Linked DNA regions of Homo sapiens. The protein of the gene in region 2 interacts with the protein of the main gene of each other region in a biochemical or structural test. Each region holds a gene or a part of one and is shown on either strand. Other genes may lie near its edges. The genes, in order: NOTCH3 and CNTD1.

Region 1 (3,812 bases), on a different chromosome or scaffold from region 2:
GGATTACAGGCGTGAGCCACCGCGCTTGGACATGGGTCTGAGACTTTTCATTTGCTGTTCCCTCTGCCTGGAATGCCGTTCCCCAGAAAGCCCCATGGCCCCCTCCTTACCTTCATATGTCTGTGAAAATAGAATTCCACCTCCTTGACCCCATCATTCTATCCCCCTTAACCCTGTGGTTTAGCTTCCTACGGCTGCTCTAACAAATTACCATAAACTGGGTAGCTTGAACAATAGTAATTTATTCTCTTGAAGTTCTGGAGGTTGGAAGTCTGAAATCAAGATATCGGCAGGGCTGAGCCTCTCCATGGGGACCCAGGGGAGAACTGACTCTTGCAGCTTCTGGTGGCTCCAGACGTTTCTCAGCTAGTGGCTGTCTCACTCCAGTCCCTGTCTCTGTCTTCTTCTCTTCCTTCTCCCACCCAAATCTCCTTTTGGCTGCCTCTCTCTTTTTTTGAGACAGAGTCTTGCTCTGTCACCCAGGCTGGAGTGCAGTGGTGCAATCTTAGTTCACTGCAGCCTTCAACTCCCAGGCTGAAGCGATCCTCCCACCTCAGCCTCCCAAGAAGCTGGGACTACAGGTGTGAGCCACCACGGCCAGCTAATCTTTTATTTTTATTTTTTAGGTGGAGTCTCTCTCTGTCACCCAGGCTGGAGTGCAGTGGCACGATCTCGGCTTACTGCAACCTCCGCCTCCCAGGTTCAAGCAATTCTTCTGTCTCAGCCTCCTGAGTAGCGGGGACTACACGAGTGCACCACCACGCCCAGCTAATTTTTGTATTTTTAGTAGCGACGAGGTTTCACCATATTGGCCAGGCTGGTCTTGAACTCCTGACCTCGTGATCCGCCCACCTCAGTCTCCCAGAGTGCTGGGATTACAGGCATGAGCCACTGCGCCTGGCCTGTTTGTTTTTTTTGTTTTTTGTTTTTTTTTGAGATGGAGTCTCCCTCTGTCAACCAGGCTGGAGTGCAGTGGTGCAATTTCGGCTCACTGCAACCTCCGCCTCCTGGGTTCAAGCGATTCTCCTGCCTCAGCCTCCAGAGTAGCTGGGATTACAGGCTCCTGCCACCATGCCCGGTTATAATTTTTAATTTTTTTTTGTGGAAAAAAAGTCTCCCTATGTTGCTCAAGCTGATCTTGAACTTCTGGCTTGAAGTGATTATCCTGTCTTGACCTCCCAAAGTGTTGGGATTACAGTTGTGAGCCGTTCTCTTGTATGAACACTTGTCACTGAATTTAGGGCCCAGGTGGATAATTCAGAATAATCTCATCTTGACATCTCTCATTTAATTACATCTGCATAGCCAGGCCTGGTGGCGTGTGCCTGTACTCCCAGCTACGCAGGAGGCTGAGACAAAGAATTGCTTGAACCCCGGGAGGTGGAGGTTGCAGTGAGCCAAGATCGCGCCACTGCACTGCAGCCTGGGTGACAGAGCAAGACTCCGTCTCTTAAAAAAAAAAAATTACATCTGCAAAGAGCCATTTAAAAAAAAAGTAAGGTCCTAGTCACAGGTTCTGGGACATGGATGTCATCTTTTCAGGGGCTGTGACCCAACTGACTACATCCTTCATGGTTCTGATGGCTTTCACCGCCCCCTGCCAGCATGTTGTATATTAATTTGTTATTCGTATATGTTCTCCTTGCCTGGACCTGGCTGCAAGGATCCAGAGGGATAGGGACCCCTTTCATTGTGTTTGTTGCTGTATTTGTATTGCTCAGAACGTAGTAGGTACTCAGTAAATATTCGTTGCATGAATGAATGTGTGTTTTGTTTTGTTTTGTTTCTTTGAGACCGAGTCTTACTCTGTCACCCAGGCTGCAGTGCAGTGGCGCGATCTTGGCTCACTGCAACCTCCACCTCCCGAGTTCAAGCAATTCTCCTGCCTCAGCCTCTTGAGTAGCTGGGACTACAGGCACGCACCACTATGCCCAGCAAAGTTTCGTACTTTTAGTAGAGACGGGGTTACACCATGTTGGCTAGGCTGGTCTTGAACTCCTGACCCCAAGTGATCTGCCCGCCGCAGCCTCCCAAAGTTCTGGGATTACAGGCGTGAGCCACTGCTCCCAGCAAATGTGTGTTTGCTGCTCTGTTTCCCTGCGTGTTTCTTGCCTGTCTTGTGTGTATCTTTGTGTCTGGGGCCATCCTGCCCTGTGCTGCCCAACCAAGCCATCTCTGCCCACAGGTGCCCGCCTGGCTGGGTGGGTGAGCGGTGTCAGCTGGAGGACCCCTGTCACTCAGGCCCCTGTGCTGGCCGTGGTGTCTGCCAGAGTTCAGTGGTGGCTGGCACCGCCCGATTCTCATGCCGGTGCCCCCGTGGCTTCCGAGGTGAGAGGGGAAGAGTCTGGAGGGGAGGTAGTCGGGGGTGTGGTCAGTCCTAAACTCACCCTGTCCTGGTCCCTCCAGGCCCTGACTGCTCCCTGCCAGATCCCTGCCTCAGCAGCCCTTGTGCCCACGGTGCCCGCTGCTCAGTGGGGCCCGATGGACGCTTCCTCTGCTCCTGCCCACCTGGCTACCAGGGCCGCAGCTGCCGAAGCGACGTGGATGAGTGCCGGGTGGGTGAGCCCTGCCGCCATGGTGGCACCTGCCTCAACACACCTGGCTCCTTCCGCTGCCAGTGTCCAGCTGGCTACACAGGGCCACTATGTGAGAACCCCGCGGTGCCCTGTGCACCCTCACCATGCCGTAACGGGGGCACCTGCAGGCAGAGTGGCGACCTCACTTACGACTGTGCCTGTCTTCCTGGTGAGTGAGCCCTACTCAGGAGAGTCAGAGGGGTGGGCGTGGGGACAGCAGGCCAGCCCGGCGGTGACCATCCTTGCCCCCTTCCCTGCTAGGGTTTGAGGGTCAGAATTGTGAAGTGAACGTGGACGACTGTCCAGGACACCGATGTCTCAATGGGGGGACATGCGTGGATGGCGTCAACACCTATAACTGCCAGTGCCCTCCTGAGTGGACAGGTGGGCACTGCGGCCAGAGGGAGCGGGGAGGCAGGCCTCGGGTGGACATGCGCCAGGTGGCTGGACTGCTGCATCTGTGTGCCACAGGCCAGTTCTGCACGGAGGACGTGGATGAGTGTCAGCTGCAGCCCAACGCCTGCCACAATGGGGGTACCTGCTTCAACACGCTGGGTGGCCACAGCTGCGTGTGTGTCAATGGCTGGACAGGCGAGAGCTGCAGTCAGAATATCGATGACTGTGCCACAGCCGTGTGCTTCCATGGGGCCACCTGCCATGACCGCGTGGCTTCTTTCTACTGTGCCTGCCCCATGGGCAAGACTGGTGAGTGGCCGTTTTCTCTGCAGGGAGCCATGGATGGTTTTTAGTGAGGGCAAATAAGAAGTCTGACTTGAGTGTTAGAAAGATTATGCTAGGCTGGGCACAGTGGCTCATGCCTGTAATCATAGCACTTTGGGAGGCCCAGGCGGGCGGATCACTGGGGTCAGGAGTTTGAGACCAGCCTGGTCAATATGGTGAAACCCCATCTCTACTAAAAACACAAAAATTAGCTGCGCGTGGTGGTGCACACCTGTAATCCAAGTCTCTCAGGAGGCTAAGGCACGAGAGTAGCTTGAACCCAGGAGGTGGAGATTGCAGTGAGCCAAGATTGCACCACTGCACTCTAGCCTGGGTGACAGAGTGAGACTCCTTCTCAAATTTAAAAAATAAAAAAAAGATTATGCTAGGCCGGGCACAGTGGCTCATGCCTGTAATCCCAGCACTTTGGGAGGCCAAGATGGGAGGATCGCTTGGGCCCAGGACTTTGAGACCAGCCTGGACAACATAGTGAGTTTTTGTCATCTCTACAAAAAC
Region 2 (3,812 bases):
TTATTCTATGGCCAGATGCTGCACCAGGTGCCATGGCTACAACAGTACAAATATTGTCTGTGCTCACAAGGAACCTATTATGTAATGGGAAAAGACACATACAAATAGTGTGGAAAAAAAAGCTCTGATTAATGTAAATACAGAGGGCTATAAATGTACCTCATCAGCCTTGGAGAGTCAAGGAAGTGTATTTAGAGAAAATGACTTCTTGAAATGGGGTGGGTGGGAGATGGGAGGATCCTAAGAGAAGAGGGAGAGGAATTAGGGAGGAAAGGAAGGGAGATCCAGGTATAGAAAACAGCCTGTGTAGTGGCTTGGAGAGGGACAGCATGGTGGGTTTGGGAACTGTAAGCAATTTGGAATGACAAGCAGAGTGTGAGGGGGAATTACCAAGAGACAAGACTGAAGATGAAGGAATAGGCTGGATTATGAAGGGCTTTGTGCACTCTGTCAAGACGTATGAACTTTATCCTAACATTCTTCTTTCCCTCTCTTTTCTTTGCTCAGATAATCAGCAACATTACAGTCTTGAATTTCCTCCAGGCTCTAGGCTATCTACACACTAAAGAAGAACTGCTGGAATCAGAGCTTGATGTTTTGAAGTCCTTGAACTTCCGAATTAATCTGCCCACTCCCCTGGCATATGTGGAGACGCTCCTAGAGGTTTTAGGTATCTTACTGTGTTAGGGAATATGGGTTGGAGACTTCCATAGAAGGCAATACAAAATGTGCATGGGGGGGCATGGCTCATGCCTGTAATCCCAGCACTTTGGGAGGCTGAGGTAGGTGGATCACTTGAGGCCAGGAGTTCAAGACCAGCCTGGGCAACATAGTGAGACCCCATCTCTACTAAAAATACAAAAATTAGCTGGGTGTGGTGGTGGGCACCTGTAATCCCAGCTACTTGGAAGGCTGAGGCACAAGAATTGCTTGAACCTGGAAGGTGTAGGTTGCAGTGAGCCGAGATCATGCCACTGCACTCCAGCCTGAGCAACAGAGCGGACTCCTTCTCAAAAAAAAAAAAAAATGTGCACAGGGGTTTGGGAACAGTGGGCAGAACCTGCCAATGAGGAACAGTAGGAAGCTTGATGGTGTCTCTGGATGACTGAAACAGGTGTTCCCTCCGGCACTTGTCAGGGAAAGCTCAGAGGTCTTAGCAACTGGCTTCTGTTTGGACTCACTAGGCACTCTTATTGCAGGATCAAAGAGGTGACTTTATAGAGAGGCATAAGATAAGAGAGGGACAACTACATGCTAATTGTATGTATACTACAGATGGAGGTTTCTCTACCTCTACCTTTGTCCTTTAAAACTGATCTCCAGCTAAACAGGTTTCTTGTAGTAGAACATAGCAACCAGGAAGCACATTAGCACCTCAACAGCTTTATGTCACAACTGTGGTTATGATCAGAGAAGACATGATCATAAATTCTCCCTATCATTCCCATACTCCATCTAGGATACAATGGCTGTTTGGTTCCAGCCATGAGGCTGCATGCAACCTGCCTGACACTGCTCGACCTGGTCTATCTTCTGCATGAACCCATATATGAGAGCCTGTTGAGGGCTTCAATTGAGAACTCCACTCCCAGTCAGCTGCAAGGGTAAGACAACTCCTATAGGGTAGGCTCCTTCCAGGAACAGGGAAGGGGAGACAGACCACAAGAACTTGGGGAATGGAATTAGCCTAGCATGGCATCCAGTCCCAGATAACCTACTCAGGCTACCTGGTTCTCATTAGTTCCAATATGTTGTTTGGATGCAGGTGACTGAGCCTGGTCAGGAAAACCCTAAAGGCTTTTACTTTTAAATTTAAATTACTTTAATTAATATATTTCCTTTCCTAGTTTTTCCTTTATAGCTGCATAAAACTCAAGGTTACTGGACTGCTTTGGTCAGTCATTTAGAAAAAAAAACAGTCGCCGGCGCGGTGGCTCATGCCTGTAATACCAGCACTTCAGGAGGCTGAGGCGGGCAGATCACGAGGTCAGGAGATCGAGACCATCCTGGCTAACAGCGTGAAACCACGTTTCCACTAAAAATACAAAAAATTAGCCGGGCGTGGTGGCGGGCACCTGTAGTCCCAGCTACTTGGGAGGCTGAGGCAGGAGAATGGCGTGAACCCAGGAGGCGGAGCTTGCAGTGAGCTGAGATGGCGCCACTGCACTCCAGCCTGGGCAACAGAGAGAGACTCCGTCTCAGAAAAAGAAAAAAGAAAAAAAAAACAGTCACAAGGTTGCAACTTGGACAAGAGTGTTTGATTACTGTAAAGTCAGACTGGTTAAAAGCCTCACAGTTACAATTGTTAGGGAAACAGATAGAACTAAAAAAGGCCTATAAACCATTCAAGACATAAGGCTCATGTTAATCCCAGTTAAGTTGGGGGAGAATGGGAGAGCAGGTCAATGAGCTATTACTTGACCATTTCCTTCCATGTCTAAAAAATCCAAGATGATCGACACAAATAATTCATAGTTGAAGTTCCATGACCCTATGATTTGGAAGATCAAGTTCCATTCTAGCTTTAAAATTAATGTGGTTTTAATCACTCAGGGAAAAGTTTACTTCAGTGAAGGAAGACTTCATGCTGTTGGCAGTAGGAATCATTGCAGCAAGTGCTTTCATCCAAAACCATGAGTGTTGGAGCCAGGTATGCACCACTGAGCAGGACCAGCATGGTGAGAATTCATTTAACAGAAAGCATTTCACCCATCAGTTAAAGGAAAACAGAGGACAACCTACAGAAGTGCCAAGACCCAGGATTAGGATGGGTGTGCAAGATTTGAGAGGGAAAAATCTAGGATAGGGCTGAAATGTTTCCTTGTTTTCCTTTTATAAAACTGGAAATGGAGGCCCAAGTTCGGCTTGTTCATTTCCCTTTATAACGATAACCTGCTATTATGTTAAACTCCAGGCTGGGCACGGTGGCTCATGCCTGTAATCCCAGGATTTTGGGAGGCCAAGGCAGGAGAACTGTTTGAGCCCAGGAGTTCAAGACCAGCCTGGTCAACACAGCAAGACCTTGTCTCTACAAAAATTAAAAATTAGTCATGGCTGGGCGCAGTGGCTCACACCTGTAATCCCAGCACTTTAGGAGGCCGAGGTGGGTGGACTGCCTGAGCTCAGGAGTTGGAGACCAGCCTGGGCAACATGGAAAAGACCTGTCTCTACCAAAAATTTTAAAAAATTAGCTGGGTGTGGTGGCACATGCCTGTGGTCCCAGCTACCCAGGAGGCCAAGGTAGAAGGATCCCTTGAGCCTGGGAGGTAGAGGTTGCAGTGAGCCAAGATTTCACCACTGTACTCCAACCTGGGAGACAGAGTGAGACCCCATCTCATTAAAAAAAAAAAAAAAAAAAAAAAATTAGCCGGGCATGGTGGTGCATGTCTGCAGTCCCACAACTATGTGGACTACTTGGCTGAGATGGGAGGATCACTTGAGCCCAGGAGTTGGAGGCTGCAGTGAGCCATGATTGCGCCACTGTACTCTAGCCTGGGCGACAGAGTGAAACCCTGTCTCAAACAAACAAACAAAACAACAACAACAACAAAGGCCAGGCAGGGTTGCTCACGCCTGTAACTCCAGCATTTTGGGAGGCCAAGGCAGGAGGATTGCTTGAGCCCAGGAGTTGGAGACAAGCCTGGGCAACACAGTGAGACCTCATTTCTACAAAAAATAAACAAAAGTAGCTGGACATAGTGGCTTGCGCCTGTAGTCCCAGCTACTCCAGAGGCTGAAGTGGGAGGATCACTTAAGCCCAGGAGGTGGAGGCTGCAGTGAGCCAAAAATCACACCACTGCATTGCAGCCTGG

The links.
Region 1: the proteins of CNTD1 (region 2) and NOTCH3 form a complex in vitro, tested with the Homo sapiens proteins (one study listed by BioGRID).

What each region holds. Positions count from the first base shown.
Region 1 is NC_000019.10:15,190,893-15,194,704, reverse strand, and holds part of NOTCH3 (neurogenic locus notch homolog protein 3 precursor), read left to right. Parts: intron 1-2,185; coding exon 2,186-2,328; intron 2,329-2,406; coding exon 2,407-2,745; intron 2,746-2,837; coding exon 2,838-2,960; intron 2,961-3,047; coding exon 3,048-3,281; intron 3,282-3,812. UniProt on the Homo sapiens protein: Functions as a receptor for membrane-bound ligands Jagged1, Jagged2 and Delta1 to regulate cell-fate determination.
Region 2 is NC_000017.11:42,805,215-42,809,026, forward strand, and holds part of CNTD1 (cyclin N-terminal domain-containing protein 1), read left to right. Parts: intron 1-507; coding exon 508-670; intron 671-1,459; coding exon 1,460-1,604; intron 1,605-2,553; coding exon 2,554-2,650; coding exon of another isoform or gene 2,651-2,678; intron 2,679-3,812. UniProt on the Homo sapiens protein: Plays a role in the different steps of crossover formation during meiotic recombination. Participates in the crossover differentiation step of crossover-specific recombination intermediates through its interaction with PRR19.